2 separate regions of the Homo sapiens genome follow, and region 2 is linked to region 1. Evidence: fine-mapped expression QTL. Tissue or cell type: whole blood. Region 1 holds a variant in brackets; the other region holds the start of a gene. Each region is shown on its reference strand, or each on the opposite one.

Region 1 (8,528 bases):
AAAAGACACAGAATTTCAGTTAGACAGGAGGAATAAGCTTTCAGGATCTTTTGCACAGAATGGTGATTATAATAAATAATAATGTACTGTATATTTCAAAATTACTAAAATAGTAGATTTTAGATGTTTTCACCAAAAAAAGATATGTGAGGTGATGAAATTGTTAATTAGCTTGATTTAGTCATTTCATAATATAAACATATATCAAAACATCACATCATATCCCATAAATATATAGTACTTATAATTATTTGTCAATTAAAAATAAAATTTACAGGCTGGGCACAGTGGCTCACACCTATAATCCTTTGGGAGGCCAAGGTGGGAGGGTCACTTGAGGTCAGGAGTTTGAGACCAGCCTGGTCAACATGGCAAAACTCCATCTCTACTAAAAATAGAAAAATTAGCAGGGCATGGTGGCAGGTTCCTATAATCCCAGCTACTTGGGAGGCTGAGGCAGGAGAATCACTTGAACCCAGGAGGTGGAGGTTGCACTGAGCTGAGATCACACCACTGCACTCCAGCCTGGGCATCAGAGCAAGACTCCATCTCAAAAAAATAATAATAAAGTAAAATTTATAAAAGTCAGCTCCTAGGAGGTGTTGTGAAGAACAAAAAATATAATGAATATAAAGTTGTTTGTAATGATTCATGCCACATGCACACAAAAATTGTTGTTGTTGAATCTGCTCAGGCTCTTGTAGCCCAGAGTATCTAAGATGCCACTCACAGGGCAGGTTTGTGAGGTCACTGAACTTGCTAATAACTGTACAAAACCTGTTACCCTTTCCCCCACCCAAAGAGCTTCAGTTCCTTGAAGAGTCTTATGCCTCTTTGCAACCATGGTGTTTAGCATAAAACCTGGGGCAGAGGAGGTGCTCACTCAAAGCGTTTTGGTAATAGATTTGAAATAGCTGCCCACTTCCCCAAATCTACACCTGGGACCAAGGGAGGAAGGAGCTTTCATTTGGCCTATCCTGTTGGTGACAAAAATGGCTTTAAATACTTTTAGAGCTAAAGTCCTTTGTATTCTTTCATACCAAGGCTACAGAAACTCCCAATCTAATCTCAGATCCTCCAGACAAAATATGGAAAGGGGACTTTTCCATTGTCCTTTATAGATTCACTCTCCCTCTTTTCCTTCATCAGCGCTTTGAATTAACTCAAGGGAGAAAAAGAATCTGCTGACTTTCTGTTTTCTCCAAATGGAAATCTCAAAAAAAAAAAAAAAAAGAAGGGTAGGAAGAAAGATTGTCAACCAAGTGGAAACACAGTCACCATCAAAATTCTGTAACAAGAAATGCCTCAGCAGATGAGCTCTTTGTAAAATGAAGAGGCCTTCTACACCAAGATATGGATGTTTGAGATCTAGCTTCATATGCATTGCAAATCTGACACTCCTACATATATTTAGGCACAAAACAAGAGATTCCATTATATATAATCCAGTGTTAATCATTTGCCATATCAGAAAGGTAAAGGACAATTCATTCACGCATCCATTCATTTAACAATTATTAATTGAGCACTGTGCTAGCTGAACAATTCAGATTTGTTGCATGAACTCCCAGAAATTATAGTCTGTGGGAGATGTGAACTTATAATTAGGTAATTACAATAGACTGTGTAAGTACAATGATAGAGAAGTGCAGACTGCTACAAAGTTTAACCATTTTAATATAACAATACTAAACATGCACATATTTACTAAAATAATCTCAAATTATATAGATCAAAAATTAATAGAACTATGGGGAGAAAATCAGCAAAACCATCATCTCAATGATTGATTGATCAAGCAAATGAAAAAACAAAAAATGCAGAAAATCCTAACAATCCATTGACAAGCTTGATTTAAAGACATATTTAGAATCCTACTTCCAATAATTAGAAGATGTGTGTCTCAAACACACATAAAACATAAAACATTTACTTTAAAATTGCCATGCAGTACTTAAAGTCTCAATGAATTTTTAAAAATGAGTATCCTATAGTAGATATTTTTTAATTACAATGCAATTAAGTTAGACATCAATAAAAAATTTAAACACACTTGGAATTATAAAAATAAACTTATAAATCACTCATGGGGAAAAGAGAAGCCAAAACGGAAATTCAAAAGTACATAGAACTCAATTGTAACAATAATACTATATATTAATACTCACAGGGTGCAATGAAAATAATACTTCAAAACAGGTTTATACCCTGAAATGTTTATATTAGGAAAGAAGAAAGGCTTAAAATTAATGAGCTGAGCAACCAACTAAAAAAGTTATTAAAAGAATAGAATAATAATACCAACATAATATAAAACAAAAACATAGGGAAAAAGGTCAACAAAGCTGGAAGTTTGTTCTCTGAGAAGACTAAAGACACTGATAAACCAGTAGTGAGCCTGATCAAAAGCAAACAAACAAACATATAAGTAAGAAATATTAGGAATAAAAGAGGAATATAACTATCATACAGACTGAAAATAAGTGAATATTTAATATTAATACATTTAAATTTAATGTTAATAAATTTGACGTATAGATTAAAATATATAAATTCCTAGGAAAGCTAAATAACCAAAACTGACTCAAGGAGAAATCAAAACCCTGTATAATCTTATAACTGTTGAGGGAATTTAATCAGCAATATAAATCCTTCTGAAAAATAGCCAGCCCAAACTATTTCATAGAATACATTTCACAAACTTTCAAGGAACAAACCATTCAAATATTCAAATTCAAATATCTTTTCCAGGTAATTGAAAAGAAAGAACATTCTACAACTTATTTTGTGAGGCTAATATAATACTGACACCAAAAACAGACAAAGAAGGTTTAAAAAAGAAAAATTATACATCAGTCTTACTCATGAACACAGATGTGAAATTTCCAAACCAAATAGTATAATAAAAAAATTTTTTTAACTATAACTTTGTGACCAGGCTGAACTATCCAAGGAAATGCATGGGTAATTTAACATCAGAAACTTTATAAATGTAATTCAACACATAAATAGACTAAAAGAGAAAAAAAATTATATTCTGAATTCCCCAGAAACAAAGGATAAAGTGTGAGTACTTTTCTGAGGCATGAAAGCCAGAGAGCAAGAGTGAGCGGTAAGAAGAAAGGAGAGTCAGAGAGGAAAGAAAACTAACACCAAGACAAATTATCAAGCCGCTGCTGCATGAGTGACGCAAGCCCATGGGACTGCATGAATGGCCACGTAAAATGCATTTCAGCACTGTCTATACAGATAAATGACAAATCCTTTTTCTCAATGAATAAATTTTGGTGAGTGCCAAATGGTTCTCATACTGTTTCCCACTGCGCATCAACAGAGACAGGAAGAGGCATGCAGTGAGACCCAAAGGTTAATTGCTGTCAGGGTGCACCTGTGTGAAACTGATAAGTGCTCACACAAAATTGGTCACTGCATCAGTGGCTGAAATAAGAAAAAAATTAAGGCTGCGCAACTCTGAAGTCATACATGGGAAGTGCCCAAAGCACCATATAATCTTTTCAGTACAAACAGAAAAAGCCTTTGATAAAATTCAACAAATATTCATAATTAAACAACAATCAAAAAAATCTCTTAGCAAACCAGGATAACAACAGAACAAAGTTTCATAACCTCATATAGGATACCTATTAAACCTGTAATAAGCATTATTTTAATATTTGATATTTGTAAAATGTTAGAATTATTACAATTAGAATCAGGAAAAAGACAGATACCATTCTCACTACCTCTTTTTCACACTAAACTGGAAGACATCGTATAATCCTCCAGGAAAAATAAATAAAAGGCATAAGTATTAAAAAGAAAGAAACAAAACTCTGTTAGCTGATGATATGATTGTCTATGTAGAAGACCCCATTGAATCTGCAGACAAATCAGTATAAATGATGAGAGATTTACAAGGTTACTAGATCTTATGTCAATTTTCAAAAACCATTTTCATGTCTACACACTAGCAACAAAGTTAGAAAATTTAAATTTAAAGATATAGTTTACATTTACAGATGAAATAATATCATGTTTGGGATTTTCTTAATCATAATCTTGGGAAGGGTAGGAAGAGAACAGCTGTCTTCTCACATCATGCCACCACCACCACCTCCACATGGTCATCACTACCATCTTTACTAGCATCCTCAGGGCAAATCACTGCCACTTCTACCTGCTCTCACCATGATCACTGCCATTACACCATTACTGCTATCCTATCACAGTCATTGCTACCACTGCCACCATCACACTGTCACCATCATCTGTACCATCTCTAGTACCATCCTTTCTCAAAACATTAATACCACCATTGCCACCCTCACCATCACCATCACCACTGTATTGTTTACTACCATCTTGACTACAATCCTGTTACTGACATCTTGATTACCATTGTATGGCCACCATCACCACTATCAGCAGCAATGCCATCTTCACTACCATCCTCATGGTAAACCATCACCACTGTCACCACCATCATGGCCACCACTATCACCAATCTAAATGTCTCTGTCATCATTATGACATCATGCTGGAATCATTACTACCACAACCATCACCACCATCTCATAGTCCCCATCATTACTACCATCCTTACAAGCAAACCATTACCAGCATGACCAACATCCTCATCATCACCATCATTATTACTTCCATCGTGGTACACTTGGGCTATCACTACCACAACCACCATCAACTAGAGCTAGGTGTCCCTCCACTGTGCTCCCAAAGCCTGTTGCATGCATTGTTCACACTGCTTCATAAAACCTGTGTACATGTTGTCTCTCTCATTGAGTGGTGACCTCTTCAAGAGCAGGGACAAGAACTCATTTTATTACATAGTTCCTACACCAAACACAACACCTGGCACATAGAAAGTACCAAATCAGTATCAGTTGAGTAAAGGAATGAATGAATAAATGAAAGCTACTATAAATAATAATAACTAACAATCACGTAAGGCCTTCACGTAAAGCTCACAATAATCCTATGAAGTGGGTAGTACCACCCTTGTTTTTTTTTCAGACAGGGTCTCACTCTGTCACCCAGGCTGAAGTATAGTGGCTCAATCATAGTTCATAGCAGTCTCAAACTCCCAGGCTCAAGCAATCCTCCTGACTCAGACCCCTAAGTAGCTGGGACCACAGGTGCACACCATCACACACCCAGCTGATTTTAAAAAAATTTTTT[A/G]TAGAGACGGGGTCTCATTATGTTGCCCAGGCTGGTCTCTAACTTCTGTGCTCAAGCAATCCACCCACCTCAGGATCCCAAAGTGCTGAGATTACAGACGTGAGTCACCCTCCCGGCCTACCCCTATTTAAGGATGAGGAATTTGAAGGTCAGTGACTTGCCCAAGGTCACATAATTAGTAAATGGCTAAGCCAGAACATGAGCCCATTTCATCTGGCTCCAGGGCCATTGTCACTACCTGCTGTATTATAGTTTGCCCCAGCTTTTCCTTATATTTCTAGCTGCAAGGTATAATCATGGAGGGAAAGCATTCATCTCATGGGAACCTCAAAATCCTTGGAATGTGGATTACCTAGAGCCTACTTGTCAGCTTAGCTACCGTGAGTTGGGCTGTGCCTCTGAATATGACTCCCTTGAAAAATATCCCCAATTCTCAGGGAACATTTTCAACTCTGGGTTGAAAGTTGATAGTTTGTGCTTGTTTCTAATGAGCTTCCTGTCTTAGAAGGGGAAAACAAAGGCTATCTAATAAACACAGCTGATTAGCAAGCCTTGAAATATCCCAAACTCCTAAGAGAGGAAAGCCAATTGTGTGTGAGGGTGTGCAAACTCACGCGGGGCAGTATAATTGAAGGAAGCTCTCAAGGAGTTGGTGTATTTCAGAGGAATGTATCATCCGCTGCCACAAAGCTGGGCTCCCTGACCCTGGCCTTGGTTTAGCTCCTGGAAACGCACTGCAACAGGACGGCATGTAACTATCAGTGGTGACACATTCAAAACATCCTCTGCACATTCCAGCACTGCTGGGGGTGGGGAGTGTCTACAAGAAACACCTGATTTATTAAGAAATCCCTACTCCTTTAAGCCAAGATATGCTAGCGAGGCTCCACAATGACTTGGCAGCACCACAACGACCTTGCACACTCACCCAGCTTTGCTTTCTGAGCGGGACTCCCAGAAGAACATGTTCCATGGTGCCCTCCTTGCTCAGAGACTCTACTTCGGCTCAGCTACAGTATGCAAGCCACAGCCAGCAGCATCGTGCTTACTTATTTGCTATTGGGTTAATTGGGTATCATGCATGGTACTATTTTTCTGCATTGTCTTAGCTGATATGACAACCCAATCAACCAGGTTGCCTTTGGATCGTTATTTTATAGACAAGGTAACCAAGTGTATTAGTCTGTTTTCACACTGCTGATAAAGACGTACCCCAGACTGGGAAGAAAAACAGGTTTAATGGACTTACAGGTCCACATGGCTGGGGAGGCCTCACAATCATGACAGAAGGCAAGGAGGAGCAAGTCACGTCTTATGTGGATGGCAGCAGGCAAAGAGAGAGAGCCAAGTGAAAGGGGTTTCTGCTTATAAAACCATCAGATTTCATGAGACTTATTCACTACCATGAGAACAGTATGGGAGAAATCGTCCCCATGATTCAATTATCTCCCACTGGGTCGCTCCACAACACAAGGGAATTATGGGAATTATAATTCAAGATGAGATTTGGGTGGGGACACAGCCAAACCATATCACCAAGGATAGAGAACTAAAGACTCCACCAGGGAGTTGTAGGTCGTCAGTGCTGCAGCCCAAATTTCAACCCAGGCCTTCGGACTCCAGAGACTGTGGTTGCAACCACTGTGCTGCACTGCCTCCCCAAAGACTTAATTAGAGGGCCCTTCAAGGGAAAGCTCCAAGTACATGTGAAAAGGGAACTCTTGCAGGCCTCCATTCTTCTGAACATGCACACGTTAAATGGAAGTGCAAACTTTCCAAGTAACTTCTACGCATTTCGTTTAAGGTTGGTGTGTGTGTGGCAGTTCTCCTTGATGGGTTGTAAATGCCCTCAAGGCAGGAACTGTACATGATATCTTTTGTGTCTCCCATACCTAGCCAAGTGCCTGGCATAGAGCAAGTGGTCTGGAAGTGTGTTTTTAAAGAGGGGAATGAAGATGATGATCCTAATGAAATGATGCTGCTCTCTGAGCCCTGTGGTTGTTTTCAGTCTGGCCTCCCACACTGTCCTGCAGGCAGCCTATACTCCAGCCCCATTGATCACCTCCCCTAGTCCCATAGACACACCCACGCTTTCACATCTCTGTGACTTTGCCTACGATGTGGCCTCCACCTGGAATACTGTTCTCTGCTCTCTCACCTTTCTTTAAAAGCCCATCTCAATGCCACTTTCTCAGGAGACTTCTATGGGTCCCTCCTGCAGCTAGAAATAATCCCTCATTCTGAACTCCCACAGTTCCTGTTAGTTCCTTCCTGTTCTTTCCCTACCCCTTTTCATCTCAGAGGGTTATTGTGATGCTGAACTGAGATCATGTTCAAGGAAGCTCTTTGTAAACCAGGAGGCACTGTCCAAACATGAGGGCTTATGAGGGCCCAGATCTCATCAACTAAAGAATGATATGGTCAACAGTGTCCAATTCTATGCTGCTCAATACAGTACTTCACACACTCAAGGAGCATTTGCTGAAAGCCTGGTGTTTCCCAAGCTGGTCTTGAACTTCCAAGCTCAAGCAATCTTCCTACTTCAGCCTCCCAAAGTGTTGGGATTACAGGCATAAGCTACCATGCTCAGCTCAAAAAACAAAACAAAACAAAACAAAACAAAACACACTTCTTGAATGACAGAATTGCACCACGGAAGAGAAGGAACAGAGTTTGGTGAGCAGGTAGCAAGCACCCCCTTCCCTCTGCCTCTCTCTGCACAGCATCCCCCAAGTATCCCCCAAACTTGCACACACCCACATACATAACACCACTCCCACTAAATAGACCCCAGACACCACAGCCTTCCAAAAACTTCTATTTTTTTCTATCCTTGCACATTCTGCTTCCATGTTCTTCAGCCCCTCCCAACAGCCCCCAAGCTTCGTGACTCTTCTAGCTCCACTAAACTATTTCCCTCTCCAAGTACTAAAATGCTAAGTATTTATTTTAGGATGGAAGAAAATTACAGCCTGTAATTAGCACATTTTTTGAACATATTGCCTAAACCACTGCTGTGTGGTGGAGCCAAGAACAAGCAGTAGTAAAATTAACAAGGTTTATTAAACAGAAGAAACCATTCAGAGCTGAGCTAATGCAACAATCACATGGAAGTCCCTCCTCTCTCCTGGGGCAGCTCTCTCGATCATCCCTTAAAGAGGAATGACACTCTCCTCTGAAAGCCAAACTATGCATGTCACAAACAGGGATCAGGGAAGAGAGCTGGATTTATAACTCAGCTCTAAGATCCATGAGCTGTGTGACCATAAGTTAGTCAAACAACCTCTCTGAGTCTGTTTCCCACCTACAAAATAACGAAAACCTGTCTGATA
Region 2 (8,000 bases), not on the chromosome of region 1:
CCCTGGGAATACAGGCATGAGCCACTGTGCCTGAATCTGGATAACTTCTCAGCACATAAAAGGAGTCTTCTTAGAAGGATAGTTTTGTAAGTTCTGTATCAACATCCCAGGGCACGATTAGGAACAAAGCCCCATTGGAGCCCACGGGAATGTCTGTGTGGTGTTTGACTGAACCTTAGGTTGGACTCAACTGGATTGGGCGTCTGACTTTCTCACCCACTGGCCTGCCCAGCTCTTGGGAAAGAATCACATCTTGTTTTTCTTTGTGTCCTAGTCTTCCCATGGTGCTTGATTTCTGAGCCAGCCCTTAGTCTGACTGAATTCTCCTGTCTGCCTTTCTGTCTCGCATTCCTTATGGAGTGCCTACATTTTGTGTAGTCGTTCATTCACTCAGTCACTCTGACAATCGCTTATTGCACAGATATGTGAGTGTACCAGGGATGTGCTACCTGCTTGCTGAGCATGCAGCCAAGTGGATGCAGCTAACATCCACTTGTTACTCCAGGTGAGTAAGGCAGACAGTCATCAGATAATGACACAAACACATTTCACAAACTGTAACAAGCGCTATGAAGGGGACAGTTCATATGTCCCCTTTCCATATCCTCATATGAAAGATGCTATGGGGCATCTTTCGAGGTCAAGGGAAGGCTGCAGGGGAGTGAGCAAGGGGGCAGGAGCCACCTCAAGCCAGAGAACAGAAATTGGGCTTTATTCTAATATGAAGAGAAGCTAATGAGAGCTTTAGGCAAAGCCCAATATGTCTGATTTATGTTGTTTAAAGACCCCTTTGGCTGATGTGTTACATGCGGGAGTGGCTTGGAGCGGGGAAGGGGAAGCAGGAGACCACTTAAGAGGCTGTTGAGTGGCCCAGGAGAGATGCCAGTGGCTTGGATGGGTTGGGTAGCAGTGGGGATGGACAGAGCACTGGGAATATGCATTGTGGGAGTGCCAAGGTGGATAGGTGGATATTAGTTCTTTTTTCTTTTTTTTCAGACAGAGTCTTGCTCTGTCGCCCCGGCTGGAGTGCAGTGGCGTCATCTCCGCTCCGACTCCCGGGTTCACACCATTTTCCCGCCACAGCCTCCTGAGTAGCTGGGACCACAGGCGCCCACCACCATGCCTGGCTAATTTTTTTTTTTTTTTTTTGTATTTTTAGTAGACAGGGTTTCACCATGTTAGCCAGGATGGTCTCGATCTCCTGACCTTGTGATCCGCCTGCCTCAGCCTCTCAAAGTGCTTGTGAACTACCGCGCCCGGCCCCTAATTACTGCTTTTGAATGTTAACTTTAAGTGAAAAATCTTTTAGCAATGTTTTGTTATGTAAGGATATTTTCATATTCAGTGACTATGTCATCGAAACACATGAATTACTTATAGGGGTACCAGCAGTTGCTGAATATTAAATGTAGGTTACTTGTTCTTTCAGCTTCTACATTCAGAGTTCCTTAATTTGTCGTCAATGAACCACCTGAATAAAAAACGTAAATATGTGACAATGAAGGTCCACGAAAGCTAGGTGCAAGATTACATGATCAGATTCTTCACAACACACAGCTAAATGAAAATACAGCTACTCTATGAACCTCAAAGATCTTTGATGACACTGCAAATGACACAAAAGCAACCTAAGCTGTATGCTTTTTTAGCATCTACTATTTAGGAGGGCCACCTTATAAAATAGATTTGAATCTCAATAAAAGTCTACTGTATCCGCAGGAAAATCCTAATACCATTCACTCACACAAATAATTTAACTATCCATTTCGAGAGGAAAGAAATATACCATGCTCTGGACGGGCGCGGTGGCTCACGCCTGTAATCTCAGCACTTTGGGAGGCCGAGGCAGGTGGATCACGAGGTCAGGGGATCGAGACCATCCTGGCTAACACAGTGAAAACCCGTCTCTACTAAAAAAAAATACAAAATACAAAAAAAATTAGCCGGGCATGGTGGCAGGCGCCTGTAGTCCCAGCTACTCAGGAGGCTGAGGCAGGAGAATGGCGTGAACGCGGGAGGCGGAGCTTGCAGTGGGCCGAGATTGCGCCACTGCACTCCAGCCTGGGCGACAGAGCATGACTCCGTCTCAAAAAAAAAAAAAAAAAAAAAAAAGAAAAGAAATATACCATGCTCTGAAATAGAAGCTACAGCTTTTCACATTAGCTCTCTAAAGGAGGTATACTCAAGCCCCTTTTCTTTATCCCACTACTAAAAAAGCACATGAGCAGTACGTCTATTTCAAACACACACAAGGAAATACGTAAAGCTCTTTTCAGAAGGAAATCATTTCCAATAAAACTCAAAATTTCTATTAACATTTAAATTATAAACCAAACATTGGCAACCCACATATATATATACACACACACACACATATGTTTGCTATGGACAAATGAAGACTGTGAGGTCATACTTTCAAATACAACTTTGGAATTAGTCACAAAAAATCAACATATATTCTCAGAAATTGTACCATTTCCTTTGGTCTACAATCCACGCTATAGGAGGTTTAATATAATATTAAATAATGTACCATTTACCCTAAAAGTAGGTTCTAGAAAACTGACTATTAGGATTGAATAACAAGGCTTTAATGGCTCAATTTTCTTATGATTATACAAACATATAAATCTTGAAAAGGTAACGCCATTTAGTAAAATCCATAAAAATAACAGTTTTGCCACAGTGCAGAGAAAAGTTCATTCAGTTTGATTCCCCATGCCCTCGACAAGCAGCTTTCTGATTAGAGCTGGAAGACACAGGCTGGGTGCAGTGGCGACCCCGTAGTCCCAGCTACTGGGGAGGCTGAGGTGGAAGGATCACTTGAGCCCAGGAGTTTCCGAACAGTCTGGGCAACATACCAAGACCCTGTCTCTTTTTTTAAACTTGGAAGACATAAAGTCTATACATTCTACACTGAATCATGAATATACTACGGAGAGTTTGTAGAAAGTAAACTTTAAAATCCCACACTCCAACATCATATATGTCCATAAGCAGGATTTGCAATTCACTTCATACTGGAGGTAAGCACCCCAGCTGGGGTCCTCTTGCCGCAGTGGTCAGGCCGTCAGAGCTGAGGCCTTTCACTGCAACAAGGGAAGTAGTCTTCGGTCCGAAACAGGACGGGGGCTTCGTAGCCGGCTTGCTGTGGCCTCGAGGGAGCAGACTTGCTAAAGAGCGAGGGCACGTTCATCGTGTGCAGGAGCTTCTTGAACGCCCTGGGGAAGGTGCCCAGCTCGGCCTCGGCCTTGGTGACCTGCTCCTCCATCCTGGCCACGCGGCCCCCCACCATCCTCACGAAGGCCTCCAGCCGGTCGATCCTGCTGTAGATGCGCCGCATCTCGGCGGCCTTCGCGTGGATGCGCGGCACGCCCTCGCTGACGACGTGGGACGAGTCGCCGCGAAGCATGTCCAGCATGCCCACGAACTCGTCCACTCTGGTAAGCAGGTCCTCTAGGCTCGCGTCCAGGGCCTCGACCTCGGGCCGCGCCCCGGCCCCGGGCAGCAGGCAGGCGGCGTAGCCCGCAGCGGCGCGGCGAAGCAGCGGCAGGTCGCGGCCCGGCGCGCCGTCCTCCGCGCCCTCGTCCTCCCACGGCCCCGAGGCGCTGCTGTGGCTCTGGGAAACAGTGCCACTGTCCCCGCTCCAGGCGGCGCCCTGCGGCTCGGCCTCTTCCGCGAGCCCCTCCGGCAGCGCTCCGCCATCCGAAAAGCTACCCTCCATGGCCCGCGACCACCCGACTGCGCAGCGCTCGCTTCCGGCCTCCGCGCGCTCACGCTCACGCACCCGCACACGCACGCACGCGCGCTCACGCCTTTGCTTCCGGCGGCCTGCGAGGGCGTCTGTTCACGCGCATCCACCTTTGTTTCCGGCCTCCCAGCGCGCTCACGCTCACGCATGCGCGCTCACGCTCACGCATGCGCGCTGCTGTTTTCTCACGCCCGAACTCACATTCAACCTTTTTTTTCTTTTTTAAGCGAAGGTATAGCAGGAATACAATACAGTGCATACATTTTAAGTGTGCACATTGATGACTTTGTACACATCCATACAACCATGCATCTTCTATCCAGACCAACAGGTAGGACATGTCCAGCACCCATGAACGTCTCCCTCCTGTCCTTCATTTCTTTTTGCTGTTTATAGTAAAATAAATGAGATAAGCAAGACGAAACACAAAAGGGATGGACCTTGACGACTTTGGATGATTTTTAAAGTCCTCAGCTTCGCCTGATTGCAAATGGCGTAAAACTAAGAAATAGTAATAGTTTCCAAGCAAATATCAAATCCAGGGTACTGCCAGAAAAAAACAAAGGTGAAGTTGAGATGTGACGGTTAAATCCTTTAAAATCTCAAAAAAAAAAGCAAAGACGGTGCCTGAGAATACCATTCAGTTAGACTAACAGCTCCTTAAAGAGATTAATGGTGTGGCTCACAGAGTCCATCAGTCAAACCACAAGGCCTCCAGAAGGCTTAAGGCTTGTTCGTCAGTATTAGCAGAAGCCCAAGATAGAGATGGACTTATCTCAAAGGGATTTGTAGGTAGCACTTTTGTTTAACGGAGTGAACCCCGATGAGATTCACAGGAGACCTATAAAGTTTTTTAAAGATAATTATATTGACACAAACATTGCAGATTGGACTGAAAGGAACAGGCCTTTGGATCCCCTCTCCCCAAACTTGTACAAGCAGGAATCAGACTGAGAAAAAGACTCATTGGCAAACACATGCCACATTTCACAAAAAAGGAAGTATAACTCAGGGCATGAAACCAGGAGCCCAGATGGTGGAACTGGGAGTCATGGAGTCCTAGACCTTGAGACTGGATGGCAGAGTTACTGTGGGCTGGCAACTTGTTTGTACTTCCAATTTCCCCCTTTTTGAACAGGAGTGGCAGTGGCTAATCTAGTCGTAGTGGAGCAGAACAGGTCTGTAGTGATTATCCTGTGCCAGCCCCACAACTGTATATTCCAGGCATGGGGGCAGAGAACTTGTCTCCTTAGTTTCAAAAGTCTACAGATCAAGAAGAATTGTACTCTAGGAGCTGAATTTAAGGAACTAAGCTCAGAAAGCCTCATCTACATCTGATCTTATTGAGAAGACAAAATTCTGGACTTAAAGCTGATGTGACAATAGGATAGTAATACCTAAAACTACATGAGATTTAAAAAAATGTAACTTTTGGGGACCTTGGATAGAGGGGAGTGTGGTTAGCACGTTAAAATGGCATGAAGAATTGGTAGTCAGGGGGCAAACTGTGATTGCTAGCCAGCCTTCAAGATGACTCCCAGTGATTTCTTACTCCTGGTATTCTCACTCTTGTGTATTCCCTCTTGTCGAGTATGTACTGGACTTAGTGACTTCATTTGCTCATAATAAACTGAAAAACACAGAAGTGATGATGTATGATTTGGACATTAGTTCATGAAAGGTAGTGTGGCATCTCTTTCCTTCCAACCTGCGAAAGGAAGATAAATCTTGGGGTCCTACAATTACTAAGCTAAAAGAAAAGTCAAGTTGGAAACTGCTTAGGGCAAACCTGCCTCACATTCTATTCACAGTCACTTCTCCGCTCACTGAGATAAATGCGTATCTGATTGCCACCTTTGGAGAGGCTAATCAGAGACTCAAAATGTCTGGGCGCGGTGGCTTACGCCTGTAATCCCAGCACTTTGGGAGGCTGAGGTGGGTGGATCATTTGAGATCACGAGTACAAGACCAGCCTGGCCAACATGGTGAAACCCTCTTTTAAAAATACAAAAATTAGCCGGTTGTGGTCGTACACACCTGTAATCCCAGCTACTTGGGAGACTGAGGCAGAAGAATTGCTTGGACCTGGGAGGCGCAGGTTGCAGTGAGCCGAGATCACGCCACTGCTCTCCAGCCTGGGCGACAGGGTGAGACTCCATCTCAAAATAAATAAATAAATAAATAAATAAAATTTTAAAAGAAAGAAAGAAAAAAAGAAACTCAATAGAATGCAACCATTTTTCTCTCATCTACCCAAGACCTGGAAGCCCCCTCCCCGCTTCAAGTTGTCCTGCCTTTGCTTTGAGTTGTCTCACCTTTCCGGACCAATCCATCGTTCATCTTAGATATGTTGATCGATGTCTCATGTCTCCCTAAAATGTATAAAACCAAGCTGTGCTCTGACCACCTTGGACACATGTCATCAGGACCTCCTGAGGCTGTGTCACGGGCACACATCCTCAACCTCGGCAAAATAAACTTTCTAAATGAACTGAGACCTGTCTCAGATATTGGGGGTTCACAAACCACTTGCTCTGGGGAAACCAGCTGCCTTGTTGTGAGCAGCTCCATGGAGAAGCCCATATAGCAAAGAACTGAGACCAACAGCTAGGGAAAAACAGCCTCTTTCCAACAACTACATGAGTAAGTCATCCTGGAAGGGGATGCTCCATCCTCATTCAAACTCAGAAATGACTGCAGCCCCAGCTGATAGGTTGACTGCAACCTCATGTAAGATACTAAACTGAAATGACATAAGATAATGCTATGGTCTGAATATTTGTGTCCTCACATCCAAATTCATATATTTAAATTCTACCCCAGAAGGTGATTGATAGGGTTTGGATGTCCTGCCCAAATCTCATGTTGAAATGTAATCTCCAGTGTTGGAGCTGGAGCCTGGTGGGAGGTGACTGGGTCATGGGGACAGATTTCTCATGAATGGTTTAGCGCCATCCCGTTTGTGCTGTTCCTGTGATGAGTGAGTTCTCGTGAGATCTAGTCATTTAAAGTGTGTGGCACCTCCTGTCACCTCTTGCTCCTGCTTTGGTCATGTGACATGCCTGCTCTCCTTTTGCTTTCCGCCATGATTGTAAGTTTCCTGAGGCCTCCCCACAAACCAAGCAGATGCCAGCACCCTGCTTCCTGTAGAGCCTGCAGAACCCTTAGCCAATTAAGCCTTTTTTCTTCACAAATTACCCGGTCTCAGATATTCCTTTATAGCAATGTGAGAACAGCCTAACACAGTGATGATATCAGGAGATGGGGCCTTTGGGAAGTGATCTGGTCATGGGGTCAGAGCCCTCATGAATGTGACTAGTACCCTTATAAAGGATATAAGGCCAGCTGCAGTGGCTCATGCCTGTAATCCCAACACTTTGGGAGGAAGAGGCAGGAGAATTGTTTGAGGCTAAGAGTTTGAGACCAGCCTGGGCAACATAGCAAGACCCCCGTCTCTAAAAAAAATTTTTTTTAAAGCTGGGTGTGGTGCCATGTGCCTGTAGCCCCAGCTACTCAGGAGGTGGAGGCTGGAGGATCACTTGAGCTCAGGAGTTTGAAACAGTGAGCTATGCTCATTCCACTGCACTTTAGCCTGTGCAAAAGAGCAAGACTTTGTCTACAAGTAAATACACAAAAGATGTATAAGAGGGCCGGGCACGGTGGCTCATGCCTGTAATCCCAGCACTTTGGGAGGCTGTGGCGGGTAGATCACCTGAGGTCAGGAGTTCAAGACCAGCTTGGCCAACATAGTGAAACCCCATCTCTACTAATAATACAAAAATTAGCCAGGCGTGATGACAGGCACCTGTAATCCCAGCTACTCAGGAGGCTGAGGCAGGAGAATCGCTTGAACCCGGGAGGCAGAGGTTTCAGTGAGCAGAGATTGTGTCACTGCACTCCAGCCTGGGCGACAAGAGTGAAACTCAATCTCCAAAAGAAAAAAAAAAAAGGATGCATAAGAGAGACCCCTTGCTCCTTCCATCCTGTGAGGACACAGCAAGAAGGAACGGTTTATGAACCAAAATACTAGCCCTCACCAGACAGAATCTACTAGCACTTTGATCTTGGACTTCCCATCCCCCAGAACTGTGAGAAATAAATTTCTTTTGTAAGCTGCCCACCTTATGGCATTTTGTTAGAGCAGCCTAAATGCACTATGACAGATAATAAATGTTTTAAAGCTGCCAAATTTTGGGTTAACTGGTTATGCAATAATAAACCACTGAAGGAATATGCTACTATTTATTCA

The links. PIP is the estimated chance that this variant, and not a neighbour inherited with it, causes the effect.
Region 2: it holds the start of BLOC1S4, and the variant in region 1 is fine-mapped to the expression of BLOC1S4 in whole blood (TOPMed, PIP 0.99).

What each region holds. Positions count from the first base shown.
Region 1 is chr12:105,482,905-105,491,432 of GRCh38, reverse strand. LOC105369958 (a long non-coding RNA gene) reads right to left here and starts at 1,731. Exons shown (of 6, transcript XR_007063438.1): 1 at 1-1,731. The variant A/G (reference allele first, on the strand shown) is at 5,197.
Region 2 is chr4:6,711,934-6,719,933 of GRCh38, reverse strand. BLOC1S4 (biogenesis of lysosomal organelles complex 1 subunit 4) reads right to left here and starts at 3,760. Exons shown (of 1, transcript NM_018366.3): 1 at 2,270-3,760. The coding sequence starts at 3,724. The coding sequence ends at 3,071. It overlaps LOC105378240 (a long non-coding RNA gene), which reads right to left. Exons shown (of 3, transcript XR_001741568.3): 2 at 6,067-6,123; 3 at 5,789-5,910. RefSeq lists enhancers at 2,719-3,358, 3,841-4,040 and a silencer at 3,511-3,560.